Linked DNA regions of Homo sapiens. The protein of the gene in region 6 purifies or fractionates together with the protein of the main gene of each other region. This does not show direct contact. Each region holds a gene or a part of one and is shown on either strand. Other genes may lie near its edges.

The links.
Region 1: the proteins of ATP4A (region 6) and SYPL1 purify together in Homo sapiens (affinity purification with western blotting; one study listed by BioGRID). This does not show direct contact.
Region 2: the proteins of ATP4A (region 6) and CBLIF purify together in Homo sapiens (affinity purification with mass spectrometry, with the first as the bait; one study listed by BioGRID). This does not show direct contact.
Region 3: the proteins of ATP4A (region 6) and CD163 purify together in Homo sapiens (affinity purification with mass spectrometry, with the first as the bait; one study listed by BioGRID). This does not show direct contact.
Region 4: the proteins of ATP4A (region 6) and ANXA7 purify together in Homo sapiens (affinity purification with mass spectrometry, with the first as the bait; one study listed by BioGRID). This does not show direct contact.
Region 5: the proteins of ATP4A (region 6) and SCAMP2 purify together in Homo sapiens (affinity purification with mass spectrometry, with the first as the bait; one study listed by BioGRID). This does not show direct contact.
Region 7: the proteins of ATP4A (region 6) and TFR2 purify together in Homo sapiens (affinity purification with mass spectrometry, with the first as the bait; one study listed by BioGRID). This does not show direct contact.

What each region holds. Positions count from the first base shown.
Region 1 is NC_000007.14:106,105,592-106,109,852, forward strand, and holds part of SYPL1 (synaptophysin-like protein 1), read right to left. Parts: intron 1,491-4,261; exon of another isoform or gene 1,357-1,490; intron 1-1,356.
Region 2 is NC_000011.10:59,831,662-59,835,785, reverse strand, and holds part of CBLIF (cobalamin binding intrinsic factor precursor), read left to right. Parts: intron 1-3,989; coding exon 3,990-4,108; intron 4,109-4,124. UniProt on the Homo sapiens protein: Promotes absorption of the essential vitamin cobalamin (Cbl) in the ileum. After interaction with CUBN, the CBLIF-cobalamin complex is internalized via receptor-mediated endocytosis.
Region 3 is NC_000012.12:7,493,278-7,497,538, reverse strand, and holds part of CD163 (scavenger receptor cysteine-rich type 1 protein M130 isoform b precursor), read left to right. Parts: intron 1-405; coding exon 406-726; intron 727-2,137; coding exon 2,138-2,458; exon of another isoform or gene 2,459-2,511; intron 2,512-4,130; exon of another isoform or gene 4,131-4,261. UniProt on the Homo sapiens protein: Acute phase-regulated receptor involved in clearance and endocytosis of hemoglobin/haptoglobin complexes by macrophages and may thereby protect tissues from free hemoglobin-mediated oxidative damage.
Region 4 is NC_000010.11:73,386,224-73,390,484, reverse strand, and holds part of ANXA7 (annexin A7), read left to right. Parts: intron 1-2,070; coding exon 2,071-2,173; intron 2,174-2,701; coding exon 2,702-2,796; intron 2,797-4,261. UniProt on the Homo sapiens protein: Calcium/phospholipid-binding protein which promotes membrane fusion and is involved in exocytosis.
Region 5 is NC_000015.10:74,852,379-74,856,639, forward strand, and holds part of SCAMP2 (secretory carrier-associated membrane protein 2), read right to left. Parts: intron 2,272-4,261; coding exon 2,203-2,271; intron 1,742-2,202; coding exon 1,643-1,741; intron 1,119-1,642; coding exon of another isoform or gene 990-1,118; intron 1-989. UniProt on the Homo sapiens protein: Functions in post-Golgi recycling pathways. Acts as a recycling carrier to the cell surface.
Region 6 is NC_000019.10:35,560,859-35,565,100, forward strand, and holds the start of ATP4A (potassium-transporting ATPase alpha chain 1), read right to left. Parts: upstream 2,801-4,242; 5' UTR 2,772-2,800; coding exon 2,760-2,771; intron 2,670-2,759; coding exon 2,526-2,669; intron 2,411-2,525; coding exon 2,351-2,410; intron 1,781-2,350; coding exon 1,577-1,780; intron 75-1,576; coding exon 1-74. UniProt on the Homo sapiens protein: The catalytic subunit of the gastric H(+)/K(+) ATPase pump which transports H(+) ions in exchange for K(+) ions across the apical membrane of parietal cells.
Region 7 is NC_000007.14:100,634,644-100,638,904, reverse strand, and holds part of TFR2 (transferrin receptor protein 2), read left to right. Parts: intron 1-4,261. UniProt on the Homo sapiens protein: Mediates cellular uptake of transferrin-bound iron in a non-iron dependent manner. May be involved in iron metabolism, hepatocyte function and erythrocyte differentiation.

The DNA.
Region 1 (4,261 bases), on a different chromosome or scaffold from region 6:
CACTAGTCTCCAAAGTAGACTGGAGTACCAGAAGAAAATATGTAAACTTCTATTTAGATCTACTTTCAGACTTAAATAAGGAATTGAAGCTTTATTGCAATTAATATACCACTGAAACCCATGCTGGGCATGCACATCAGAAGGTCACATGTCAGTACAGCATGCTGGGTATCCTGAAGGTAAGGGGAATCTCATACATGGAAGGACAGACAGTGATAACCTCATCTATTCTTTCACTTTTAGTGTTCATGCATTACAATGTGAGTGGGCCTGGATTTATGGAATAATTTGTCTAGTTTTAACCAAATCAACCTTCACAAAATTGACCCATGGCTTTAAAATGTCTTCAAAGAAATAGATTGGTAACACACACACTCATGTATAAAAGAGAAAATGGAAGCATTCATACTACTCTATGATTACAATCAACAGCCATATTACAAGGTAAAAACAGACTACTTAATCAGATCACAAGACGGTGGCACAACAATAAAAAATTATCAGAATAGTATCTGAAGCAAGGATTTAAAAATATAAACAAAATTTGCACTGAGTATATAATATACCTTAAGATACTAACTGACATAGTAAAACATGCATCTTAAGTTGTAGATGCATATTGTGGCTCTGTCCATAAAATTTTGCACTAATAGGAGTGCAAAAAAGACTCTGGAGGCTGGGCACAGTGGCTCATGCCTGTAATCCCAGCACTTTGGGAGGCTGAGCCGGGTGGATCACCTGAGGTCAGGTGTTCGAAACCAGCCTGGCCAACATGGTGAAACCCCATCTCTACTAAAAATATCAAAAAAAATTAGCTGGGTGTGGTGGTGGGCACCTGTAATCCCAGCTACTTGGGAGGCTGAGGCAGGAGAATTGCTTGAACCTGGGAGGCGGAAGTTGCAGTGAGCCGAGATCATGCCACTGCACTCCAGCCTGGGCGACAGAGTAAGACTCTGTCTCAAAAAAAAAAAAGACTCTGGAGGCTGGGTGCAGTGGTTCATCTCAGCATTTTGGGAGGCCAAGGCAGGTGATCGTTTGAGCCCAGGGGTTCGAGACTGGCCTGGGTGACATGGTGGGACTCTGTCTCTATAAAAAATTATAGAAGTAGCTGGGGGTGGTGGTGTGTACCTGCAGTCCCAGCTACCCAGTAGACTGAAGTGAGAGAAAAGCTTGAGCCTGGGGAAGTCAAGGCTGCAATTAGTTGTGATCGTGCCACTGCACTCCAGCCTGGGTGACAAGAGTGAGACCCTGTCTCAAAAAATAAATAAATAAAATTTAAAAAGAGTTTGGAGCCTTAACTTCTATTGCTAGACCATGCTAATTCTGAGGATTCTACTGGAGAATACTAGTATTCACCTGGTTTATGAGTGTTGTTTACACGTTTCTAGTTGCAGGATCTTCATTGCTATTTAATTTCATCATTAATCTGAAATCATCTATTTAAATTTCTTTCTGTCCAAGGTTTAGTTTATCAAAGTGATAACTGAAATCTTCAAAAATAGATATAAAAGTATATTATGTATGAGTGTTTACATGCAAAAGAAATGTATGCTGGTTTTAAGTCAAATGATCATTCAGCACTTAAAATGAAATATTATAGCACGTTTGCCTTTACAATCAAAAGATTAGATGCCTAGAGCCAAGGTATGATTTTTATGAGTCAAAGTCCAAAATGTTTACTAAAGTTATTCATTTCAAAAAAGTATTGTTTTTGATGGTGGTATTTCAGTTTATTCCCACTGGGAAATAAAGTCAGTTACAAAGTGCTTCAGTTTCACTCTATCTCCCTTTGCTTCTAATGTACAATAGTAGAAAATTCTAAATAGCCTGCCAAGATAATTCCATAATCCTTAAAAATTTGGATTATGGCCGGCTGCAGTGGCTCACGCCTGTAATCCCAGCACTTTGGGAGGCCAGGGCGGACGGACTACCTGAGGTCAGGAGTTTGAGACCAGCCTGGTGAAACCAGGTGAAACCCCGTCTCTACTAAAAATACAAAAATTAGCCGGGCAAGGTGGCACACGCCTGTAGTCCCAGCTACTTGGGAGGGTGAGGCAGGAGAATCACTTGAACCTGGGAGATGGAGGTTGCAGTGAGCTGAGATCATGCCACTGCACTCCAGCCTGGGTGACAGAGCAAGACTCCGTCTCCAAAAAAAAAAAAAAAAAAAATTGGATTATGAGAAGTAAACTCTAGAGTTCCTACTGAAATAAACAGCTAGAAGTTTTTTGCTAACTCCTAATCATTGTATGTTGAAAACACATTTATGTCACCTTAAATCTCTGAGGAACCTAAATATATTTATTTAAAAATCATTTATCAGCCAGGCGCGGTGGCTCATGCCTATAATCCCAGCACTTGGGGAGGCCGAGGCGGGTGGATCACTTGAGGTCAGGAGTTAGAGTCCAGGCTGGCCAGCATGGTGAAACCCCGTCTCTACTAAAAATACAAAACTTAGCTGGATGTAGTGGCGAGCGCCTGTAATCCCAGCTACTCGGGAGACTAAGGCAGAAGAATCTCTGGAACCTGGAAGGCGAGGTTGCATTGAGCCGAGACCACACTACTGCACTCCAGCCTGGACAAGACAGAGACTATATTTTTAAAAATTTAAAATATAATTTATATTTTTAAAAATAGAAATCATTTTCTAATTGCTCTACTATTTTCATGTCTTCTGGAGTGAATCAATATCCTGATTGTTGATCTGGCTGGCTGTCTTGAAGTAAGCCTGTCACTCTGTGGAAAACTGACAGCATTTGTTGCCACTGACATAATTTGAATTTTTAAGTAAAAATTAGTTTTCTTCATGTGTTTTAGGATATTTGATATAGGCTCAACTTGATTGTCCCCTCCTGCTTCTATCCCTGTCTAGCGGCTTTATGGTCATGGTCATTTCTGCTTGGCCTTCTGAGTCCCCTGGTCCACAAACACACCTTATGATGGGACCCCCAAACCACCAACATAAGTGAACATACACGTTATCACAAATCCAGACCTTAAGCCTGCAAGTAGATTGGTCCAGGTCTTGAGAGGCTATATATATCTCTTTATTTCTACACTTTTAAGTACTCAGCTCTATTTAAGTCGTAAATCCAGATAGTTGGTTGAGCTTTCTTCAGATTTATTAATAATTACCAAATTTGGGAATAGTCTTTCTCCCTGCCGTATTTTCTGTTCTGTTTCTGGTCCCCAGTGGTGTTTACCTCATCAATTCTCAATGCGTGGTCTGTGGACCCCTGAAAGCTCCCAAGGCTCTTTCAGGAGTTCATGAAGGTAAAACATTTTCCTAACGATACTAAGACATTATTTGCCTTTTACACTGTGCTGACATTTGTACTGATGAAGCAGATAAACTGGTGGGGAAAACTGCCGGGTTTAATAAGAATCAGGAAGAATACCAAACTCTATTTCACTGCCACATACTTGCAGTTAAAAACAAAAAACCAAAAACAAAAAAGAACAAAAAACCCCCACCAGTTTTACTTAAGAATGTCTGATGAAGCAGTAAAAATTTTATTAAACCTTGACCCTTGAGTTCTCTTGTCAGTAGGATAAAATGGGAAATGCAAATAAAGACTTTTGTTGCATACCAAATACAATGGTTGTCTCCAGAGAATGCATTTAAGCAACTGAGTTGTAAGCTGAACTAGTGGCTTTTTTTTGTAACCACCAAATTTCTCCCATCTTCACAGTCAAACAGCGGTTTATGCTGTCTTCACTTTCTTACCACACATTCATTCAGCCTACTAAAATCTGGCTTTTTGATTTTACTGAAACTGCTCTTGCTAACTAGTCCTTATTTTATCAACTAGTCCTTATTTTACTTTACCATTCTATTGCACCTTACGTTTTGGGGTACTCTTTTCTTGAAATTCTAATAGTGATGCCAAGGCATTATTTCCCTCAATTTTCCTAACCATTCCTTCTCTCCTTTGCAGGCAGATATCTGCTATATCTGCAGCCCAAACTCATATTTTAAATTCTAGATCCATATATATAGCTGTATCCTATAGGATACCTCCAAAAGATCTAAAGAGACCACAAACTCAATACATCTGAAACCTTTGACTTCCCATAAAATCTGCTCCTCCTCCTCTTAATGACATTACCTTGAATATGCTAATGGCAACGAAGTCAGAAAGACAGCAGTCATCTTAGGGTCCTCCCTCTTTGTTACCTTCCATATATATTCTAATTTGTAACCCCCTTTTGTAAACCCCTTCAGTCCTACTGAAACTAATTTTAGGCCCTCATAATTCCT
Region 2 (4,124 bases), on a different chromosome or scaffold from region 6:
ATCATTCTCTCAAGGCCTGATCTGAATTCCCATTTTTTATCCATCCTGTTTTCCTAATTTTTTTCCTTTTGATAACAGATTTTTATTTAATAGCGCTTGAGCAGCTTTCAATCTAATAAATAGGTAAGGCTCTCATGAAAACTTAAATCATATAAGTCAACATATGATGAAGTTTTAAAAACAAAAATTCAGAGGAGATTCGAAAGTCCATTGCAGAGTAGAACAGGCAAAAGAGACTTTGTAGCTTTGAAACACAAAGAATAGGTACTATTTAGGAAGATGTGGGAAGAGGTAAGTCCAGAAAAAGAAATGGCCAGAACAGGCCGGGCGTAGTGGCTCATGCCTGTAATCCCAACACTTTGGGAGGCCCACGCCTGTAATCCCAGCACTTTGGGAGGCTGAGGCATGCGGATCATCTTAGCTCAGGAGTTTCACCAACATGGTGAAACCCCGTCTCTACTAAAAACACAAAATTAGCCAGGCGTGGTGGCACGTGCCTGTAATCCCATCTACTCGGGAGGCTGAGGCAGGAGAATCGCTTGAACCTGGGAGACGGAGGTTGCGGTGAGCCGAGATCATGCCATTGCACCCCAGCCTGGGCAACAAGAGCAAAACTTCATCTCAAAAAAAAAAAAAAAGGAAAAGAAATGGCCAGAACAAAGCATTTGCGATAAGACTGAGCAAGGAATTTGGGGCCAATGAATAGGCCAGGTGGACATACCAGGTTGGGTGACAGTGTAAAAGTCTTGAAATACCAGGTTCAGGAGACTGAACTTCATTTTGCAAGTTTTTGAGTAAGAAAATCCACTTGGTAAAATGTTGCTTAGGTCGTGAGAATAGGAGACAAGGCTAAAACATAGGACATGACTCCAATAATGGAGGTGTGAAGTGACGATGACTTCCTCTGGGATACACGGACCCACACCAAGGCTCTGTGAGTGATGGGACATAGAGGTCAAGAGAAAGAAGCTTCAAAACTATTGATTAAAGGGTCAAGAAGAAAGAATATCTTTCAAAGAAAAGGATTAAATTCCTTAGATATGTTTAATGGTAGGCATTTGAAATAGGAACATTAGAAGGCTTTTGGCGGTATAGTCCAGGCACAGTGGCTCATGCCTGTAATTACAGCACTTTGGAAGCTGAGGCGGGTGGATCAGTTGAGGGTAGGAGTTCGAGACTAGCCTGGCCAACATGGCGAAACCTCATCTCTACTAAAAGTACAAAAATTAGCCAGGCGTGGTGGTGCGTGCCTGTGGTCCCAGCTACCCAGGAGGTTGAGACGGGAAGATTGCTTGAGCCTGGGAGGTGGAGGTTGCAGTGAGCCAAGATCGTGCCCACTGCTCTCCAGCCTGGGAGACAGAGTGAGACTCTGTCTCAAAAAAAAAAAAAACAAAAAAAAGGAAGGAAAGAAGGAATTGAGAGAGAGAAAGAAAGAGAAAGAAAGAAAAAGGAAGGAAGGAAGGAAGGAAGGAAGAAAGAAAGAAAGAAAGAAAGAAAGAAAGAAAGAAAGAAAGAAAGAAAGAAAGAAAGAAAGAAAGAAAGAAAAAGAAAGAAAGAAAGAAACAGAAAGGCAGGCTTTTGGAGGCATAGAGGAAGTACTAGGAAAAGAGGTCAGGACATGCAAAAAATAAATTGGACAGTCATCTCTTAGAGGTGATGACCTAAGTCAAGAACCCATGCAGTAGATAGCAGATACTTGCACCCAATAAAACCATAAGACATATTTAGTTATTCTCATTTTACAGATAGAACCCTTAGGCCCAAAGAAGTTAGTAACATTCCTAAGATCACATAACATGTAACTAATAGAGTTGAGAGTGGAACCCAGGTTGGACTGAATCTGATGCTCATGTTCTTTCCATGCCCCTCTCAAGGTAGGGGAAAATACAGAAATAAATCACAGAGGAGAAAATTAACTTTTAGGGCATGTTTATAGTTTGCAAAAAGAGGAAGCAGTAAAGAAACATGGAGAAGTCTAAGCTATAGGAGGAGAGGAGGAAAAATGCCAAGTCATGGAAAGGAAAAAAGCATCTTTTCTTTTTCAAAGAAAAGATGATCCAAATTCTTCAGGAAGATATCAAGAAGGAATACTGACAAAGGCTAAGGAATTGACAACTGAGTGATACCACGTGGGTATCTATTCCACCCGGTTCTGTTGAGCACATTGTGTCTGCTGCTTACTGCACGACTCCATAACTTCCCTAACTTCCATAGACAGGTCAGGATAAAAATTGCACTTCAAAACTATTTAATTTTTTTTTTTTTTTTGAGACAGAGTTTTGCTCTTGTCACCCAGGCTGGAATGCAATGGCGCGATCTCGGCTCACTGCAACCCCCACCTCCCGGGTTCAAGTGATTCTCCTACCTCAGCCTCCTGAGTAGCTGGGATTATAGGCACCCGCCACGATGCCCTGCTAATTTTTGTATTTTCAGTAGAGATGGGGTTTCAGCATGTTGGCCAGGCTGGTCTTGAACTCCAGACCTCAGGTGATCCACCCACCTCAGCCTCCCAAAGTGCTGGGATTACTGGCGTGAGCCACTGCGTCTGGCCCAAAAATATTTAATTTTAAAACCCTCTGAATATACCGTACTTTACTTCTCTGAAGTTAGCTTTAATTTTGCCTAATTTTTCTTTTTCTGATTATAAATGTATTAAATACATAGAGCAGAAATTTTGAGGGAAAAAGCAAAAAGAAGAAAAATCATCTATAGTCCACACACAATATCACAATTGTTAATATTTTTTATAACTTTTGTAGGTTTTTTTCTATGCATATTACAAATAGGTGTGATCCATCATATACATGGGACAGATATTTCATGTAAAATTTGTACCTCATATTTTCACTTAACGTTATTGCATAAGTAGTTTCCTGTGTTACTGAAAATTATTGACAAATATTTTCATGGCTTCCAAATATTTAATCTTGGATATTCATTCCATCACTCATATAATCATTTACCCATTTGGGGGAATTTACATTTTTTAAATTTGATTATTAATAGGTGTTTTCAAAATCCATTCATTTTCATTTCATTTCATTCTAAGTGAAGTAATTTCATATTCATTAGTCATTTGTATGTTTGCTTTTTTAAAATTTATTTATTTATTTATTTATTTTGAGATCAGGTTATGAGACTGGCTAATTTTTGTATTTTTGTTAGAGACGGGGTTTCACTATATTGCCAAGGCTGGTCTCGAACTCCTGGGCTCAAGCAATCTGCCCTCTTCAGCCTCCCAAAGTGCTGGGATTGCAGGCATGAGCCGCCACACCTGGCCCATTTTCTCTTTTTTTTAAACTTAACTTTTATTTTAAGTTTGGGGTACATTTGCATGTTTGTTACATAGGTAAACTGTGTCATGGGGGTTTGTTGTACAGATTATTTCATCACCCAGGTATTAATTCTACTACCCATTAGTTATTTCTCCTGATCCTGTCCCTCCTCCCAACCTGTACCCTCTGATAGGCCCCTGTGTGTGTTGTTCCCCTCTGTGTATTCATGTGTTCTCATCATTTTGCTCCCACTTATAAGTAAGAACATGCAGTATTTGGTTTTCTGTTCCTGTGTTAGTTTGCTAAGGATAATGGCCTCCATCCATGTCCATTGCAGCACGATTCACAATAGCAAAGACATGGAATCAACCTAAATGCCCATCAATAGTAAACTGGTTAAAGCATTTTCTCATTTGATTTTATCTGATCATTTTATCAGATAAAATCATGCTCAAAAGAGAATATCATTTAAAATATCTGAAGCATTTATCTGAAGCATTTAAAGTGTCTCTATCCTGGCGGGTGGATGCTTGAGCCCAGGATTTTGAGGCTGCCATAAGCTAGGATCTCACCACTAGCCTGGGTAACAAAGTCACACCTTGTCTCTAAAAAATTAATTAACTAATTAATTAATTGACTGTCTCTATCCCTTCATCTTACCGCTTATTCCCTGACCTAAAGTGAGATGTTAATCATATATAAACTTTTTTTTAGATTTGAAACCACAATGACATCTTGGGGCCTTGTCGTCTCTTCTATCAACAATATCGCGGAAAATGTTAATCACAAGACATACTGGCAGTTTCTTAGTGGTGTAACACCTTTGAATGAAGGTGAGGGAAGAAAAGA
Region 3 (4,261 bases), on a different chromosome or scaffold from region 6:
GAATGCAGTCAGAGGCAAAAGGGATTGCTAAGTATGGAGGCAAACTGAAGGATGAGGGAGTCACCTAAACACATGCAAATATATTTTAACCAGAAAAAGTAAACAGTTCTAACAAGAACTCTGTGGTGGTCAAATAGCAGGTCTCTAGATGAAATTCAGTCCCTGTATCTCCTGTTAGAAACACTTCCTGTAGTATATGCTGTCTATACTGAGATGTCCCATCTTCTTGCCTGATCCACTCCTCCTTCCATCTTGAATGATTTCCAGTGGTAGTACAGTACATCACAGTTTTCTCTGTCTCCACTTATATCTCTCCCCTTTTCCTTAACTCATCTCAGGTATAGCTATTTATAGTCTCATGTTCTTGCTTCCTTATCGCAGACCTGTTGTGTGTCTCTGTTACAGAGGGAGCAGATCTGAGCCTGAGACTGGTAGATGGAGTCACTGAATGTTCAGGAAGATTAGAAGTGAGATTCCAAGGAGAATGGGGGACAATATGTGATGACGGCTGGGACAGTTACGATGCTGCTGTGGCATGCAAGCAACTGGGATGTCCAACTGCCGTCACAGCCATTGGTCGAGTTAACGCCAGTAAGGGATTTGGACACATCTGGCTTGACAGCGTTTCTTGCCAGGGACATGAACCTGCTATCTGGCAATGTAAACACCATGAATGGGGAAAGCATTATTGCAATCACAATGAAGATGCTGGCGTGACATGTTCTGGTAAGTTAAAACCAAACCAAAACCAAAACACTAAACAAAAAGAAAAGCAGAAACGGAAAGTCCTGTGCTCCTTAAGAGTAGGAACGTGCTCCTTAAGAAGTAGAAATGCCTAGTAAATTCCTTGCTGGGAATTCCTTTATACCTGTAATCTTTGACACATTCTTTATTCAACTAGTTTGGAAGGTTGTCTGACGGCATTCTCTGTAATAATTACTCAGACTGCTTTTATGGAGCACACTTCAAACTCAGAATCTACCTGGAGCTCAGAGAGACAAAATTTCCTAGGAATCTGTTTTTAAATTTTTTTAATTTACTTATTTTTTTACTTTAAGTTCTGGGATAGATGTGTTGAATGTGCAGGTTTGTTACATGGGTAAACATGTTCCATGGTGGTCTGCTTCACGTATCAACCTGTCATCTAGGTTTTAACCCCCCATGCATTAGGTATTTGTCCTAATGCTCTCCCTCCCCTTTCCCCCCACCCATTGACAGGCCCCAGTGTGTGATGTTCCCCTCCCTGTGTCCGTGTGTTCTCATTGTTCAACTCCCAGTTATGAGTGAGAACATGCAGTGTTTGGTTTTCTGTTCTTGTGTGTTAGTTTGCTGAGGATGATGGTTTCTAGCTTCATCTGTGTCCCTTCAAAGGACATAAACTCATTCTTTTTTATGGCTGCGTAGTATTCCATGGTGTATATGTACCACATTTTCTTTATCCAGTCTATTATTGATGGGCATTTGGGTTGGTTCCAAGTCTTTGTTATTGTAGATAGTGCTGCAATAAACATACATGTGCATGTGTCTTTATAGTAGAATGATTTATAATCCTTTGGGTATATACCCAGTAATGGGATCGCTGGGTCAAATGGTATTTCTAGTTCTAGATCCTTGAGGAATCACCACACTGTCTTCCATAATGGTTGAACTAATTTACACTCCCACCAACAGTGTAAAAGCTTTCCTATTTCTCTACATCCTTGCCAACATCTGTTGTTTCCAGACTTTTTAATGATCGCCATTCTAACTGGGATGAGATGGTATCTCATTGTGATTTTGATTTGCATTTCTCTAATGACCATTGTTGATAAGCTATTTTTCATATGTTTGTTGTCCGCATAAATGCCTTCTTTTCAGAAGTGTCTGTTCATACCCTTCACCCACTTTTTGAGGAATCTCTTTTAAAGCTGAATTGCTCATATCTTTCTGCCATTGACAATTTTTATCAACCCTTGAAACTACAGTCCCATTTCTAACAAAAATTTATGGTCTATATTATTGTTTCTTAAAAAGTCAGGAAATAAGTTACCTATAATTTTCAATGCATCAGTATCAGAGAAGAAAAAAGACAAAAAAAAATCCTCTGGAAGCTAACCTCCATATGTATCGATGGTTTAAGTTTATGTTTCTTTTGCAGATGGATCAGATCTGGAGCTAAGACTTAGAGGTGGAGGCAGCCGCTGTGCTGGGACAGTTGAGGTGGAGATTCAGAGACTGTTAGGGAAGGTGTGTGACAGAGGCTGGGGACTGAAAGAAGCTGATGTGGTTTGCAGGCAGCTGGGATGTGGATCTGCACTCAAAACATCTTATCAAGTGTACTCCAAAATCCAGGCAACAAACACATGGCTGTTTCTAAGTAGCTGTAACGGAAATGAAACTTCTCTTTGGGACTGCAAGAACTGGCAATGGGGTGGACTTACCTGTGATCACTATGAAGAAGCCAAAATTACCTGCTCAGGTATGACTTTCAATCAACTTGTTAAGAAGAAGGGTGTAAATTTCCAGTACTACCTTTGAAATTGAAAAGAAACATTGGTCCTTATGACTAGATCACTCTCAAGAAACCAGGAAATATCTACACAAATTCCACTGGGAGAGTCAGATAAGTTTACAATTCATGTTGCACTTTAGATAGAAGTGTTTGGGTTTTGCTCACTTTGGTTTTTGAGTAATTTTTAGATCAATAGAGGTATAAGATTAAGGAGGATTAAAATTTAAAAAATAGAATTCAATATTTCTTTCACAGGATGTCACCAAAAGATTTAAAAAATAACCATGTTAGATAAACTGACATAACCTTCAGCTCCCTCTATTGTACTGTGAAAGAATTTTCTTTTTTTTTGGAAAACCTGTGAATATTTCACTGCAACCTCTTTAAAAAGCTCAAAAATGAGTTGTAAACTGGTTAGGTTTGTGGATAATCTTTAGTATTTTATGCTAATTATATTTATACAAATGTTAACTTTGTTGAAAAGTGATGCTTTTTAAATAACTCTAAAGTAAATGTAACTTTTACTCATGCAACAAAAAGGCTTTAGAAAACACAGTGTACAAGAAAACCATTAAACATGTAGAGACCTCACAGAATGGAAACTTGTACGTGCTGCATGTCCTCTAACCAACAATATGGCTCCAGATACCTCCCAACCTAGGCATGCAGTGAGGGGCATTTCCCTGATGTTACAAATGGTGCTTACCTCTAGTTAAGTAGAAATTATCCTCCGATTGAAAAAAGGCAATCATTTAAGATATAAATTTGAATTTCTATATTACTTTTTAAAAAATATTCTGGACCAGGCAATATAATCACATGGTTTAAACTTCAAAATAAAAAAGTGTAAACTCTTCCCCCACTACTATCCAATTCTTTTCCTCACAGACAACTTATGTGGTTGGAATATTTATATATTATTTGAGATATTTCATGTAAATACAAGAAAATACAAACAAATCTATATATAGCTATCATTTGCTTTCATTATCCAAATGGTGGCATGTTGTATAAATTGTTTTGTACCTGAAGTATTCACTTAGTAAAATTTCTTGATCAAATTTCACATCAGTATTTAAAGAGCTGTCTGAAATTACTTCCATATCTATAACATTTCTTATAATTTATTACCGTGTGTATTCATTTATTCTTTTAATTTTTTACCTGACAAGGTTAGCCATTCTTTTACCTAAATTTTTTTTTAAAAAACCATTATTTGGATTTTAAAAAATTAATGTTACTTTTATTTCCTTTCTAATTCATTAAAATTTACTTTTCTTTCTAATAATTCTCTTCAGATTTCCTAAAGTTTGATTTCTTTTTGGCCCCCAACTTCTTGAGTTGAATCTTAAGTTTTATTTCTTCTGATTTACTAATATAAATATTTTAGGTTATAGATTTTCCTTCTAAATTTATAATGGTTTGTATATTTTCTTATTAATTGTATTTTACATTGATTAGCATTAAGTTCTGCTGTATCTAAAAGAGAAACAAATAATAGTGACTGAAGAAAGACAGTGTTCACTTTTTCTCATTTAAAATTAGTCAAATAGATAAGCAGTTTAAGGCTGTTTTGGTGTCTCTGTTGTCACCAAGAAACATCCAGAATAGATTTGCTGCAGTAAGTATCAAATCCTACCGGACAGGAAGGATAAGCCACCCCGCAGCTCAGTGAGTTCCTTGGAAAGCCAATCTGGTAGACGAAGTGCTGGCCTCTGAGAAGGTGTCTTCTGTCCGCTGTCCTTCATGGGCCCCAGTGTTGCTCTCAGG
Region 4 (4,261 bases), on a different chromosome or scaffold from region 6:
TGGCTTTCTATTAAAACCACTATAGGTATATTTGTTAGTTCTCTGCTTACAGCCCTAGCTTGGAAACTAGTAGAGGATGGATGCTAAGGCTTACTGGTAGAAGAAAATGTTGGAGTAAAAATATATATGAGTGGGAGGAGCTATTGACCCATAAAAGTGTTATCTTGAAAAGCTGCTGAAAGATGGGGCTTGTTCTCATCTCCTCAGTTGCTTTGCCCCCACAAATGCTGGTGTACTGCTGTATTCAATGTGTATAACTTTAAATACAGTTTCTGTTGTCTAAAAAGCATTGAATCATCTTTTATTTTGAAATGGTATTGATTGCATGTTTAAATGATAATACTTTGGAGGTATTGGATTAAATAAACTGTGTGTGTGTATATGTGTGTTTTCTGCAGTGAAAACACTTATTTTACAACAGTAATCTTTATTTTAGGTCAACATTCAAACATACAAGAAATGTGTTGTTACAATTAAAATTTTTTTAAAAAGTAGTGGAGCATCATCTTCATCCCATCCCTCTTAAGCCCTGACTTGAACACCCTAAGAAACTTCTTGAATTATTCTGGGCTGGCCGCACACCTGTAATTCCAGCACTTTGGGAGGCCAAGGCAGGGGGATCACTTGAGGCCAAGAATTCGATACCAGCCTGGGCAACATAGCAAGACCCCCGTCTCTACAAAAGTAAGAAATTAGCTGGGCATGGTGGCACATGGCTGTAGTGCTAGCTACTCAGGAGGCTGAGGCAGGAGGATTGCTTGGGCTCAGGAATTCAAGGTTACTGTGAGCTATGTTTGTGCCACTGCACTCCAGCCTGAACAACAGAGTGAGAGCCTATCTCTAAAAAATAAAAAATTGGGGGAAACTATTGAATTATTTCATAGCTTTGTATTTTAAATTGTTTTATCTTTTAATTTTGACATAATTTTAGACTTGCAAAATAGTACAAATAATTTGTATATACCCTTTACTCAGATTCTCCAAATGTTAACTTCCTACATAAACACAATGCAATGATCAAAATCAGGAAATAACATCGATATAGTACTGTTACCCAACCTACAGACCTTATTTCAGTTTCACCAGTTGTCTCAATGATGTCCTTTTTCTGGTTCAGGATCAAATCCAGAATGCAATGTTGTATTTATTGTCATGTCTCTTAAGTCTCCTTTAATCTGAAATAGTTCCTCAGTCTTTGTTGTTCATGCCCTTGATGCTTTTGAAGAACACTGTCAGTTATTTTATAAAATATTTCTTAATTTGGGTTTGTCTGATATTTTCTCATGGTTAAATCCAGGTCATGCCTTTTTGGCAAGAGTACCACAGAAATGATTTTGTGCCCCCAGTGCATCATATCAGGAGACACTTATTATTGACTTATTCCATTACTGGTGATAATTAATTTTGATCATTTAAGTTGGTGCCTGCAAGGTTTCTCTGCTATAATGTTATAGGTTATACAAATATCCTGTTTCTTTATACTTTTGCCACCTAATTTTAGCACCCACTGTTGATTCTTGCCTGAAACAGTTACTACCATAGTATTTGCTAAATGGCAATTTTTAATTTTCATATAGATTTATTTCATGTATAATAATCAGGGTCCATATAGGAAATTAAGAGAGATTACTAAAATTATATTGCTGGTTTGAAATCTCACTGGGCATTCATGTGCTACTTCACTAAAGCCATTTTATATTCTTCTGTTTTTAAATCAAACATTGTCGCTCATCTCACACCATTCAGGGATCAGTCTTCTTTTTTCTTCCTATTCTACCAAAAAGGAAACTATAGTAAGATTGTGACTTTAATTTCACAAGTTTGGCCATCTTGTCTCCTGGAAGTTTGGTGTCTGGCTATCTGTTGGCAGGAGAAAAATCTGTCCTGAAGGGGGATAGGTCTTTCCTGTCTGTTCCATAATGAGCTCTGGTAATAAAATGCTCATATCCTTGCCTTAAAACCCAAACATTGGCCTTCTTACTTAAGATTGATGTCTGGGGAAGTCTTTAAGTTTCCTCATTAGAAACTTACTGGAAATGCTGACACGGATTTTATGCCTTTTATTTTCAGCCTGCCACAGTGACTCAGGTCACTCAAGGAACTATCCGACCAGCTGCCAACTTCGATGCTATAAGAGATGCAGAAATTCTTCGTAAGGCAATGAAGGGTTTTGGTAAGGAAAACAAATTTTTGTCTTTTTTAATAAGTTAAAGTAATCAGTTCTAAAGTAAAAATAAACCTTATCTCATAAACCCAAGTTTATGTGTCAGCCTGGGTGCGCATACCTGGATTTAATCTGATGTCTAGTGCCTTGTAAGCATTCTAAGAGATGACCTCAGGCTGGGTGTGGTGGCTTACACCTGTAGTCCCAGCACTTTAGGAGGCCGAGGTGGGCAGATCACCTGAGTTCAAGACCAGCCTGGCCAACATGGCGAAACTCCATCTGTACTAAAAATAAAAAGTAAAATAGTTGGGCATGGTGATGCATGCCTGTAATCCCAGCTTCACGGGAAGCTGAGGCAGGAGAATTGCTTGAACCTGGGAGGTGGAGATTGCAGTCAGCCTAGATCACACCATTGCACTTGCACCCCCAGTCTGGGTGACAAACTCCGTCTCAAAAAAAAAAAAAAAAAAAAAAGATGACCTCAAGCAGCACCTAGCATGTACTTTGTCCTTACTTAAACATGTGTGGTTCTTCCAGGGACAGATGAGCAGGCAATTGTGGATGTGGTGGCCAACCGTTCCAATGATCAGAGGCAAAAAATTAAAGCAGCATTTAAGACCTCCTATGGCAAGGTATGTTTTTCTTTCCTGGAATGAGCACCAGCAGTGGCTGGTAGACTCTGCATTCATGTCAGATTGGATACTATATTTTGATTAGTACCTGTGGTGCAAAAGAGGGACAACTAGACTTTAGAGACCTCAAGGGTACTGTATTCCCTATTTCTGTTTTTTGTTTTGTTTTGTTTTGAGATGAAGTCTCGCACCAACATCCAGGCTGGAGTGCAATGGTGCGATCTCAGCTCACTGCCGTCTTTGCTTCCCGAGTTCAAGCAATTCTCCTGCCTCAGCCTCCTGAGTAGCTGGGACTACAGGTGCACAGCATCATGCCTGGCTAATTTTTGTATTTTTAGTAGAGACAGAGTTTCACCATGTTGGCCAGGCTGGTCTCTAACTCCTGACCTCAAGTGATCCGCCTGCCTCAGCCTCCCAAAGTGCTGGGATTACAGGCGTGAGCCACCATGCCTGGCCTATTTCTCTTAAAAGGCTTTTTCATTCTAGAGTAGTCCTTGATCTCATAATCATACCTTACCCCAGTCACATATGTGATAGACATTCAGTAGAAAGTAGATCACAACTACAATCATGATCAAGAGGATGGTTCTCAGTCTTCTGCCTGTTACAGTGGGATTCAAGGCTTATTACATAGCCCTTGTTTATTCTTGGTCCTGGGCATCGCCTTCTGCTTCTCTCCCTTTCTCTAAACGTGTCCTATGTTAAAATTATATGGACTGAGCGTGGTGGCTTACGCCTGTAATCCCAGCACTTTGGGAGGCCAAAGCAGGAGAATTTCTTGAGGCCAGGAGTTCAGGACCAGCCTGGGCAACATAGGGAGACTTCATTTCCAACAACGATGACAACAAATTATATTAGCTGGGCGTGGTGGCGTGTGTCCATAGTCCCAGCTGCTTGGGAGGCTGAGGTAGAAAGATTGCTTGAGCCCAGGAAGTCAGGCTGTTAGTGAGCTGTGATTGTGTTACTGCACTGTAGCCTAGGTGACAGAACAAGACGCTGTCTCAAAAAAAAATAATATGGAAATGCTTGCCATTCTCTGTACACGCCATGATCTTTTATGCTTCTGTGTTGTGTACATGCCATTCTCCTGGCCTTGAATACCTTTTCTTTTTTTCATGGCAAACTTCTTTAAGATTTGGCTTAAATATCAGCTACTCTGAAGTTTCTTTCATTAGTCTGGACAGAATTTAGCTGCTTCTTAATACTGTAGTCCCATAGCACTTTGTAAAACCTCTGTTATTACTAATCTCACGGCCCACCCCCAAAAACTGAGCTCCCATAGGACAAACCATGGTCATAGTCATCTTTGTATTACAGTACCAAGTATATAATGGCAAGTAGCCACTTAGTACTTGTTGAATGGATGATCAGTTTCTAAATCCAACAAGATTCTATGGCTAAAAAATGCCATTGTTCCTCAGATGTAATGGGAAAACATGGATAGCACTGCTTTGCTTTTTTTTTT
Region 5 (4,261 bases), on a different chromosome or scaffold from region 6:
CCCCACACCTTCCTGACCCCTTGGCCATGACTAAGCTGTCCTCTCCCCTCATCCCTAAGCTTGAGTTGGGAAAACTACCCCCATTGGCTTCTCCACCTCTTCCCCATACTGGGTCAAGGCAGCGCTCAGTGATTGTGACCTTTGGGAAAAAGACCTCACAAGAAACTAAACTATAATAAGAAACCCACAGACCCAAGCCTCATTTGAAGAGCCTGGTGGATGTGTGAGAAGGAAAACAGTGCAAGCCTGCTAACAGTGAGTGGAAAGGGGAGACACGTGAAGGCAGATGGCGTGTGCCTGAGCCTCAGGATCTGTACAAGCACCCTGCCCCATGGCCTGCCCCCAGGAGCTGCCTCCTGAGGTCCCCCTAAACTGCAATTGGCTACACCCCAGGACAGCCCCTTAGGTGTGGCCCTGCCCTGCCTGGCTTTAGTGGCATGCAGAGTCCACACTTATCTCCTCTCCAGGCGGGGTAGAGCCTCTGAGTAACAGTAAGGGACTGACTGTATGTGAGGCTGAACAGACCTGGCCCCGGGGCCCTGCACCTGCTGGCAGCTGCTGCCATTTGGGCCAGGTTCCTCCTGAAGGATGAGACTACAGTCCTTTTTAGGGAGAGATCTCAAACTGGTCATTTCACAGGATGACAAACCAGGCACATGTGTACACACACACATGTATACACACACCAACCTCTCCAAAAGCTCTTCAAAGACCTAAGGCTGACGTGGAGAGCCAAGTTTCAGGCACTGGGGGCGGAAGCAGGAGCAGAACTGACCCCGCTGTGCCACGCTGGGGGTCTTGACCTCCTCCAAGTCTGTGACGCCAGCTGAGAAGGACCCAGCTCCCTACAGCCCACCACCCAGCTGCACAGAAAGGCAACTCCGCATGTAAGGCCTGCCTCACCTCCACAGGGCTCTGGGGCCTGGGAGGGGTGTGGGGCAGGCTCCGGGTGCCCTGCCCTTCCTCCTGCTCATCTACATTAGGCCTACCTTCGGAAGCTTTCGCATGTAGCTGTCTCTGAGAATACTTTCTCCTCCTAGGAGCATCTGCCTCTCTGAGAGCTCGCTCACTGCCAGGAATTGGGCAGGCGGGAACTTGCTGGCCTGTCTAAGCAGGAGCTGCAACACACAACTCCACCATGGGTCACGCTCATAGGGGCAGCGAGGGGTGCAGCGGGAGGGCAGTGAGGCGGCGCAGTGGAGCACCAGGCACAAAGCAGGCAAGATTCACAGTATTTGGTGAAGGGACAAAGGAAGACAGGAAGGAAGGTGAGAATTAATGAAGTTAAAAAAAAGAGAGAGATTCTGGGCCCCAAGGAAGAGAGAACAAGCCAAAGGCCCGAGGAGGACCTGGAGGGGTACAACAGGGACAAATGCCCTCTCTGGAGGCACCGAGGAGCCCGGCCTGGTGAGTAGAGCTTATTTCTCAGTGGTGGTGGTGGGTGGGATGGAGGGAGTAAGGATATTAATTGGCAGAGCAGCCCCTCTACTTGTAGGTGACCAGCTCCGAACAAATTAGCAAGAGGGCCCTTAGGGGGCCAAGGCTGAAAGCTCTCTGCTTGCCCCCAGCCTCAGGGCTCAGCTACTGGTCTGGATGATTCCCTCACTGGAGAGAAAAGGCCAGAGTTCTTTGTCAGCACTACCTGGGGGGTCGGCTGGGTTGGTTCCACTGATGGCTGGAGAACCGCTGGCTGTGAGGACCCAGGGAGTTGGGTGACAGGAACTGTTGTCGCTGCATTTGTCTACATGGAACAAATCAAAAGACAGAATTGAGTGGGACTCCATTAGCTGGTGACGAGGGGGCAAACCCACAGCAGGATGAGTGATGTGCCCCTGCCTGTGAGGGGACTCCCTCGGGGCCTGCACTGGGCCTTCCCCTGTGGCTTCCCAGCCAACAAGCCTCAGGTTCAGGCCATCTGATCCCTAACCCGGCACCCCTGGGCTCGCTGGGTCCAGCACACTTGGGCACTGCCCTGACCTCCTTGGGGAGGGGCCCCGGTCACAGATCCCAAGGGGAGAATTTTACAGAGCGTTTGGTGGCTTTGCCATCCTTACCCTGCCTCCCGGGTTCATGTTAGGACTGTCCCTTTGAGGACTGCCGCTTCTCAGAGCTGCTTCTGTCCTTGCCAAGGATCCCTGCCCCGGACACCCCAGCACCACCCTAGAGGGCCATGGGACTTGGAAAGAGGGCCTGCTCACCAACCTCTGAGAAGGGGTTGAATTCCGCCAGGCCGCCCTGCGGGGCGTTGGTCAGCTGGGTCACAGAGGGATCCTGAGAAGGTGAAAAAAAGCCCTTAGACACAGTGGAGAAAATCCGGGCCAGGGGCCGGCAGGCGAGCCGGTGACGCCTGACTGAAGCAGGGCAGCTGATCACCCTCCCGGGACCCTGAGAAGCCTCTCTGGAAGGGTCCTGTGCCTGCCTCTGCCACACCACAGCTGCGGTCCCTTCTCCCTTCCCCCTTCCTGGAAAAGGTTCAGCCCAGAAGAGACCCAGAGCAAGCTTTACCCAGAAGCTTGAGAGTACACACCACACAGGCTCCTGTTGGTGCCCTATACAGATTCAAAATGGTTCATAGTATTTACCTCTAGGGAGTGGGTTTTTTTTTTTTTTTGAGGGGTGGGGTGCTGAGGGGCAAGTGAATGGGGTGGTGAGGGTAGAGACTTACTATTGACTTTATAACCTTTCTGTACTGTTTTACTTATTATTCATTTATTCCTCTTTTTTTATATTTTTTTATTTTTTCGAGACAGAGTCTTGCTCTGTCACCCAGGCTGGAGTGCAGTGGCGCAATCTTGGCTCACTGCAACCTTCGCCTCCTGGGTTGAAGCGATTCTCCTGCCTCAGCCTCCTGAGTAGCTGGGACTACAGGCGGCCGCCACCATACCCGGCTAATTTTTGTATTTTTAGTAGAGACAGGGTTTCACCATGTTGGCCAGGATGGTCTCAATCTCTTGACCTCGTGATCTGCCTGTCTCGGCCTCCCGAAGTGCTGGGATTACAGGCGTGAGCCACCATGCCTGGCCATTCCTCTTATTTTGTAAAAGACAGTCTAAGGTAGCCGGGTGCAGTAGCTCATGCCTGTAATCCCAGCACTTTGGGAGGCTGAGGCGGGTGGATCACCTGAGGTCGGGAGCTCAAGACCAGCCTGACCAACATGGAGAAACCCCGTCTCTACTAAAAATATAAAATTAGCCAGGTGTGGTGGCGCATGCCTGTAATCCCAGCTACTCCGGAGACTGAGGCAGGAGAATCACTTGAACCCGGGAGGCAGAGGTTGCAGTGAGCCCAGATTGTGCCATTGCTCTCCAGCCTGGGCAACAAGAGCAAAACTCCATCTCAAAAAAAAAAAAAAAAAAAAAAGTAGTCTAAGTTTCTAGAACAAAAACATGCTGCTGGCTGCCAGTACTGATTTTATTAAATCGGGCACACTTGCTAAGAGCAGAGATATGATGAGCTGAGGTGAAAATTCAAGAAAATGTTTCTGGGTTTCGGGGGTTTTTTAAAGTCTTTTCATAAAATCCAAGAATGTCCTCAGAACACAACCTTGTCTCCCTTTCCCATCTGATCTCTGCATGGGGCTCTGCCATCCTCTTTACTGTGCCCCTGCTGGCCTGGAACAGTTGTCTTCACCCTGCCCTGCCCCAAGAAGAGCTCCTCCACACCCTCCCCTTCCTAGTAACAGATGCAGGGCTCAGGTCCAGCTTCACAGCCATGCCTGGGCTCCATGAGGAACAGCCCTGAGGGTGGCCAAATTCAGGGCTGTTCCTGCCTGTGGAGACACCGCTTGGGTTCCACACCTCACCCCACACCCCTAATTATTAAACCAGATGCTCCCAAACTTCAGGCCCAGCCTCACCTCCACTGGAAGCCTCTGCAGAGCCAGTTCTTTTTTTTTTTTTTTTTTTTTTTTTTTTAAGACAGAGTCACGCTCTGTCACCCAGGCTGAAGTGCAGTGGCATGATCTCCACTCACTGCAGCCTCCGCCTTCTGGGCTCAAGCTATTCTCGTGCCTCAGCCTCCTGAGTAGCTGGGATTACAGGCGCCTGCCACCACACCTAGCTAATTTTTATATTTTTAGTAGAGATGGGGTTTCACCATGTTGGGCAAGCTGGTCTTGAACTCCTGGCCTCAGGTGATCCGCTCACCTCAGCCTCCCAAAGTACTGGGATTACAGATGTGAGCCACTGCACCTGGCCTCCAGTTCTTTTTTTTTTTTTTCCTTTTTCTTTTTTAGAGACAGGGTCTCACTCTGTTGCCCAGG
Region 6 (4,242 bases):
CTCTTGAATTCCTGGTAGTAGCCAAAGCAGCCGGTGACGACAACCACAGCAATGAGAGCGATTGCCAGGTACAGCTGGGGACAGGGAAGGGGTGGGGTTATTCAGAGGGGCCGGAAGCTGCCTGCCTGAGGCCACCGACCTGCTCCCTGGTGCCCTGGTTTTCTTGGTTTTCCCCATGCTTTTCCCCACCTACTAGGAAGCTCCATGCACCATTCCCTGTAGCCTTTAGCCCCCTCCCATGTCCCTCATGTCCCACACTCGCCTGCTCTGTCTTCTCAGTGTCTTGTGTTTCTGTGTATATTTCATATCCTCTGGCCCTGAATCCTCAATCTTCCATGTCCCCATATCTGTGACTTGTGCCCCAAATCACTGTGTGCCTTGGTCTGACGTGTTCCCTTCTCCTGTGTCCCCAAGCCTTGCATTCCCCATGTCCACTGTCCCATGTCTCCTCCTGTCCCCATGGCCTGTATTCCCCGTGTCTCCAGTTTCACATCCTGGGTTTTCCATAATCTGCTGCCACCCTCTGTGTGTCCCCTGGGCCCCCTTGTCCCTGCATCCTCACATCCCCGTCCCTGCGTGTGCTGCAGACCTTGTACGTCATGGTCTGTGTCCTCTGTGGCCACGGCCCCCATGTTCTAGCTCCCCAGTCACTGTGTCCCGTGTCTCCCATGTCTGTGTATCTCCGAGTTCCCATCCTGTGTCCCATGGCCATGACTTTTCGAGCCTCTGTCCCATGTCACATGTCCCTGAGTCCCCATGTCCCTTGCCCTCATCTCTGCCATATGTCCAATGTCCCTTGCCCTGCACCTCCATTTCCTCTCTGTCTCTGTGCTTCTATGTCTCATGTTTTGTGTCTCTCTATGTGCTGTGTCCTGAGGCTTGGGTCCCTGCCCTGGTGTCCTATGTCTGAGTCCCAGGGTCTCCTATTCCCCGTGCCTCAGTCTGTCCTGTGTCTGCACTGCATGTCCTCTGCTTCCAAGTCCCATCTCTTTTTTTTTTTTTTTTTTTTTTTTTTAAGATGCAGTCTCGCTCTGTCGCCCAGGCTGGAGTGCAGTGGCATGGTCTTGGCTCACTGCAACATCCACCTCCTGGGTTCAAATGATTCTCCTGCCTCAGCCTCCCAAGTAACTGGGATTACAGGTGCCCGCCACCATGTCTGGCTAATTTTTGTAATTTTAGTAGAGATGGGGTTTTGCCATGTTGGCCAGGCTGGTCTCGAACTCCTGACCTCAGGTGATCTGCCCGCCTCGGCCTCCCAAAGTGCTGGGATTACAGGCATGGGATTACACGCCCGGCCTCCAAATCCCATCTCTTACGTATCACATTGCCATACTCTTTATGCCCCCACCTATGTCCCCATACCCAAGATTCACCCCAGTGTCCCTGTGTCCTGTGTCCTTGGGTCTGCCCCATCCATATCCCAATGTCCTTCACCCTCCATGACCCCTGTCTTGAGACTGCCTTTCGTGTTCGTCTATCCCCATCCTTCTCTGCCCCTCTTGTCCCAAGTCCCAGGCTCAGTGTCTTCCATCCCCAGGTCCCCATGTCCTGAGCCTGTCCCCACAACATGGCTCACATTGTCGTCGGTGGTGAGGTCCCCCTCACTAGCCTGGATGGCAAAGGCGATGAGGCAGATGGCGGCGGCAACCCACATGAGGCACTGCAGGCCCCCGGCCAGCTGCCTCGCGAACTTGACGTACTCTGGGGTGCCCCGTGGTGGCCGCAGTGCGTTGGGCCCATCCCGCAGCAGCAGCTCAGCAGCCAGGCTCGCAGAGAGGCCCTGGGACAGAGGGGCAGGGCGAGGCGGTCCTGGGGGCTTTCCTCCACATGCACACCCCGTGGAAAGCCCCCTGCTTCAGTTTCCCTTCTCCAGCTTGGTCTGTCCTGCTCCTTCTCATCTCTTTGTCTCTTGGTTCCTGCCCCCACCCCATCTCTCCCTCCCTCCTTCATCTCTCCCTTTGTCTCTCTCTCCTCGCTCCCCTTTCTATGTGTCTCTCTCCTGCTGCTCTCTCCTTATTTGTCTCTGCCTTCTCTGTCTTGCTGTCTCTTTTCAGCTACTCCTCTCTCCGTCTCTGTGTGTCACCCTTTCTCTCTAATGCTTTCTCCCTTCTCTCCCTCTCCCTCTCTCTCCCTCTCTCCATCTCCCTCCCTCTCTCCTCCCCTCCCTCCATCCTTTCCTCTCTCCCTCCCTCCCTCTTTCCTTTTCTGCCTCCCTCCCTCTCTCTATTTCTCCATATCTTCCTCTCTTCATCTCTCCCTCTCTCTCCCTCTCTCCATCTCCCTCCTTCCATCTCCCTCTCCCTCCCTCTCTCCTCCTCCCCTTTCTGTACGCTCCCAGTCTCCAGCTCACCTTGGTGGCACTGGTCTGGTATTTCTGTTCCAGCTCCGCCACTGACAGCTGGTGGTCGTTCTGTGTGGTGGGGTGGGGCAGGGTGCTTGCTCTGGGCTCTCCTGGCCCCCTCCCCGCCCACTGCCTGGTTCCCAGCCTACCCTCCAGCTCCCGCCCCTCCCCAGTCAGAGCTCACAATCTCCATCTCCTTCTTCATGTTCTCCAGCTTCTCCTTCCTCTTGCCACCCCCGCCACCCGCCTTCTTCTTCTTGCTCATCTTGGCAGCCATGTCCCCGCCAGGGCCAGGACCCAGCTCCACCGAGTAGAGCTCATAGTTCTCCTGGGAATGGACAGGATGGAGGGAGGGAGAACTCAGATTCCACTGCAACCCCTGTCCCCACTGCACCCCGGACCCCTGGGCCCCACTCACGGCCTTCCCCATGGTGCCCGGTGCCTGTGCTCCCACCCAACAGAGCCTGGGCCCGGACCAGTCCTGATATACCCAGGGAGGGCGGTGGGGTGGAGCAGAACCGCCCGACCACAGCTGATTACAGGCTCCTTGGGGTGACCTCTAGGCCTGGGCACCTCAGGCATTCCCTCCTGGGCTGGCCCCCCCCTCCCCTGCCCAGATCCCCCCATGTCAACCTGCCCTGAGATCAGGGAGCCCCTGGGAACCGCTGCAGCAACAAGAAGAGCAAACATAAGGTGCTCATTATGCGCTGGGCATTGTGCTGACGGCTTCCATGTGCTAACTTATTTAACCTTCCAATAACCCTTTGAGGGGACAAGACCCTTTACAGATGGGGAAACTGAGGCATGGAGGGGTTGAGTCATTCTCCTATGGCTCCATCACAGGCTAGGACATAATGGAGTGAGAACCAGATCAGCTGGCTGCAGAGTGTCCTCTTTCAGTCTAAATAGCACGTGCCTGATCAACTGGAAGAGGAGGGTGCTCCCACACTCTTTTTTTTTTTCTTTTTTTTTTTGAGATGGAGTGTCACTCTGACACCCAGGTTGGAGTGCAGTGGTGCAATCTCAGCTCGCTGCAACCTCCGCCTCCCGGGTTCAAGTGATTCTCCTGCCTCAGCCTCTTGAGTAGCTGGGACTACAGGCACATGCCACCACACCCAGCTAATTTTTGTACTTTTAGTAGAGACGGGGTTTCACCAGGTTGGCCAGGCTGGTCTCGAACTCCTGACCTCAGGTGATCCACCCGCCTTGGCCTCCCAAAGTGCTGGGATTACAGGCGTGAGCCACCATGCCCTGCCATGCTTACAACACTCTCTATGGTGGCTGAATGTTTACTGAACTCTGACTATTCACTATGGGCTGGGTGTGCTCTGTGTGTCACTCAAATGGTTTCCTTAGCATCTAACAGCAGCCCTGTAAAGCAATATTCTCTTCTTAGCCCCCATCAGGGACTTTGCAGAAGATTTCAACGTCTAAGAATTAGGGACAGGGTTCCAGCCCGGGCTTGACCCCAGGGCTTGACCCCAGAGCCTAGCTCTTCTATGGCACCACCAATGGAAAAACCCAAACTTCACTGCAGCAGCACCACACACATGCCAGGCTCTGCACGTGTGACCTCACGGGTCTTTGCAAAAAACCCTGTGCAGGCAGAACTATCATTCCTGTTGTGCAGAGGGGGAAACTGAGGCTCACAGGGACTCACATATCCAGCTACAGACTTTACAGCTCTCAACCATTCCCCGTCCCTACCCTAGATGGGGAAACCAAGGTGCAACATGGGGAAAGGATGTGTCCAAGGGTCTTGGCTTGATCTTGGTGTTGGGTGACAGATGCCAGGAGGCCTGGGGACTCCCTCCTCATCCCTCAGGTAGGGACCTCCATGGGCAGCAGCAGCGAGGGGCTGGGCCAGTGGAATGGTGGGGACCTTGGTATGTTATGGGGTG
Region 7 (4,261 bases), on a different chromosome or scaffold from region 6:
AGGGCCTCACTGTCACCCAGACAGTGCCGAGATGATAGCTCACTGCAGCCTCCAACTCCTGGACCCAAGTGATCCTCCCACCTTAGCCTTTCAAGTAGCTAGGACTACAGATGTGTGCCACTATGCCCGGCTATTTTTTTTTTTTTTACTTTTTTTGAGACAGAGTTTCACTGTTGCCCAGGCTGGAGTGCAGTGGTGCGATCTCGGCTCATGGCAACCTCCACCTCCCAGGTTCAAGCAATTCTCCTGCCTTAGCCTCCCGAGTAGCTGGGATCACAGGTGCCTGCCACCACACCCAACCAATTTTTTGTATTTTTAGTAGAGACGGGGTTTCACCATGTTGGGCAGACTGGTCTCAAACTCCTGACCTCAGATGATCCACCCACCACGGCCTCCCAAAGTGCAGGGATTACAGGCATGAGCCACCATGCCCAGCCTAATTTTTAATTTTTTTTAGTAGAAACGAGGTCTCCCTATGTTGCCCAGGATGGTCTCAAACTACTGGCCTCAAACAATCCTCCCACCTCAGCCTCCCAAAATGCTGGGATTATAGGAATGAGGTACCGCACCCAGCCTGCTCAGGGCTTTTAAATTAAATTACAGGTCAGGCATGGTGGCTCACACCTGTAATCCCAGCACTTTGGGAGGCCGAGGTGGGCAGATCATGAGGTCAGGAGATCGAGACTATCCTGGCTAACATGGTGAAACCCCGTTTCTACTAAAAACACAAAAAATTAGCTGGGCGTGGTGGCGGGCACCTATAGTCCCAGCTACTTGGGAGGCTGAGGCAGGAGAATGGCATGAACCCGGGAGGCGGAGCTTGCAGTGAACCGAGATCGCGCCACTGCACTCCAGCCTGGGCGACAGAGCAAGACTCTGTCTCAAAAAAACAAAACAAATACAAAATTAGCCGGGCGTAGTGGCGCATGCCTGTAATCCCAGCTACTCGGGAGGCTGAAGCAGGAGAATCGCTTAAACCCAGGAGGCGGAGGTTGCGGTGAGTCAACGTCGTGCCATTGCACTCCAGCCTGGGCAACAAGAGTGAAACTCCATCTCAAAAAAAAAAAAATTAAATTACATTAATTTTTTTTTGAGACAGGGCCTTGCTCTGTCACCTAGGCTAGAATGCAGTGGTGCAATCTGGGCTCACTGCAGCCTCGATTTCCCAAGCTCAGGTGATTCTCCCATCTCAGCCTCCTGAGTAGCTGGGTCTACAGGGAGGGGCCACCACGCCCAGCTAATTTTTCATTTTTCTTTTTTCAAAATTATTATTATTATTTAGGGACAGGATTTATTTATTTTTATATATTTGCAACCAATTCTCACTCTGTTGCCCAAGCTGGAGTACAGTGGCATGATCTTAGCTCACTGTAACCTCCGCCTCCCGGCTTCAGGTGATTTTTGTGCCTCAGCTTCCCAAGTAGCTGGGACTACAGGCGTGAGCCACCATGCCCAGCTAATTTATGATTTTTTTGTTTGTTTTTTGTTTTTTTCTTTTTTTTTGTGAGACAGAGTTTCACTCTTGTTGCCCAGGCTGGAGAGCAATGGCACGATCTTGGCTCACTGCAAACTCCGCCTCCCGGGTTCAAGCGATTCTCCTGCCTCAGCTCCCCGAGTAGCTGGGATTACAGTCATGCGCCACGACACCCAGCTAATTTTGTATTTTTAGTGGAGATGGGGTTTCTCCATGTTGGTCAGTCTGGTCTCGAACTCCTGACCTCAGGAGATCCACCCACCTCGGCCTCCCAAAGTGCTGGGATTACAGGTGTGAGCCACTGCGCCCGGCAATTTATGTATTTTTTTTAGGGACAGGGTTTCATCATGTTGGCCAGGCTGGTTTCGAACTCCTGGGCTCAAGCAATCCTCCTACCTTGGCCTCCCAAATTTCTTGGATTACAGGCGTAAGCCATGGTGCCCAGCCTGTTCAGGGCTACTTTTATTTTTTTGAGCAGTATTTGGTCATCTGGGTACAGGCTGAGCAGGTAGATAGTTTGACAGGTCTAGAAGCGGGGTGTGGCACTGAGGCAAAAGTAGCAGTTTTGGGGAGAGAGCAAGGATGTTGCAGTGAGCCGAGATCGCGCCATTGCATTCCAGCCTGGGCAACAAGAGTGAAACATGGCTCTCGGTGGGATGGAGAGGGAAGAGAAAGTGGGGGGAGATGATACATGTGGAGCTATAGGACATTTGTCATGTTCAATGGGGTTGAAGAGCAGGTACAGCGAGGATAACTGGGGGAGTTGGAACCTGACAGGGTCTACTCAGAGAGTAGGATTCTGGATCCTTGAAAACTTCCTGATACAATATATCCTGTCTATCTCAGAGTCTCCAGCACCTACCACAATGCCTGGCACTTACTAGATGTTCAGTAGATCCTCAATGGATAAGTATTCCAGAGATGGAGTGCGGGTAATGACAAGATGCAGGATACGGGCCAGGCACAGTGGCTCACGCCTGTAATCCCAGCACTTTGGGAGGTCAAGGCAGGTGGATCATCTGAGGTCAGGAGTTTGAGACCAGCCTGGCCAACATGGTGAAATCCTGTCTCTACTAAAAATACAAAAATTAACTGGGTGTGATGGTGCATGCCTGTAATCCCAGCTACTCGGGAGGCTGAGGCAGGAGAATCACTTGAAACTGGGAGGCAGAGGTTGCAGTGAGCTGAGATCGCACCAATGCACTCCAGCCTGTGAAACAGAGCAAGACTCCATCTCAAAAAAAAAAAAAAAAAAAAAAAGATGCAGGGTGTGACCAGGGAAGTGGAGTGCCTGGACTGGAGGTGACAATGATGAAGTAATTAATTCATTTATCCAACAAGTATTTTGGGGCATCTACTACGTGGCAGGTACTAAGCTAAGCAGGTGGTGGTGAGATAGAGACTAAAACAGTCTAACTTTGTTCTCATGGTGCTTACAATCCACTGGAGAAAACCAATACTAAACTAACAATCATTCACGACTACATAATTATGACTGGAATCATTGCTTTGAAAGAAAAGCAAAGGATGTGAGGCTCAGTGTGGTGGCTCACACCTGTGAGCCCAGCACTTTGGGAGGCTGAGGTGGGAGGATCTCTTGAGCCCAGTTTGAGACCAGCCTGGGCAACATAGAGAGATCCTGTCTCTTAAAAAAATAATAATAATTTGACCAGGCACGGTGGCTCACACCTGTAATCCCAGCACTTTGGGAGGCCAAGGCAGGTGGATCTCCTGAGGACAGGAGTTCGAGACCAGCCTGGCCAACATGGTGAAACACTGTTTCACCCTTTTTAGGCTCTACTAAAAATACAAAAAAAATTAGCTGGGCATGTTGGCGGGCACCTATAATCCCAGCTACTTGGGAGGCTGAGGCAGGAGAATTGTTTGAACCTGGGAGGTGGAGGTTGCAGTGAGCCAAGATTGCGCCATTGCATTCCAGCTTGGGCAACAAGAGTGAAACTCCATGTCAAAAATAATAATAATAATAATAATAATAATTTTTTAAAAAAGAAAAATAAAAAATTAGCCCAGTATGGTGGTGCATGCCTAGAGTCCCGGCTATTCAGGAGGCTGAGGCAGGAGGATGGCTTGAGCTTAGGAGCTGAAGGTTGCAGTGAGCTATGGTCATGCCACTGCACTCCAGGCTGGGTGACAGAGTGAGACCCTATCTCCAAAAAAAGAAAAGAAAAGGGGCCGGGCGCCATGGCTCATACCTGTAATCCCAGCATTTTGGGAGGTGAAGGTGGGCTGATTGCCTGAGGCCAGGAGTTTGAGACCAGCCTAGCCGACATGCCGAAACCCTGTCTCTACTAAAAAAATACAAAACTAGCTGAGTGTGGTGGTAGGCGCCTGTGGTCCTAGCTACTCAGGAGGCTGAGGCAGGAGAATCACTTGTACCCAGGAGGCAGAGGTTGCAGTGAGCTGAGATTGCACGACTACACACCAGCCTGGGCGACAGAGCGAGACTCCGTCTCAAAAAAAAAAAGAAAGAAAGAAAGAAAAAAGAAAAGAAAAGTGTGTAAAGAAAGACTATAACCAGGATCCTGATTTAGATTGCAGTTCAGGGAAGGCTTCGTTGAGGAACTGACGAGTCTAAACTGCCAAGATGAGTAATTTGCCAGGCAAAGAGACTGTGGAAAAACATTCAGGCTGAGATTCACCATTTGCGAAGGGTCTGAAATGTGAAGATGGTGGCCTCTTGGAGGAAGGGAAAGATGGTCCATGTGGCCGGTGAGGTGGATGTAGCTCAGGCCCTAAAGGGCCTTACTGGCTACTTTAACTGTTTTG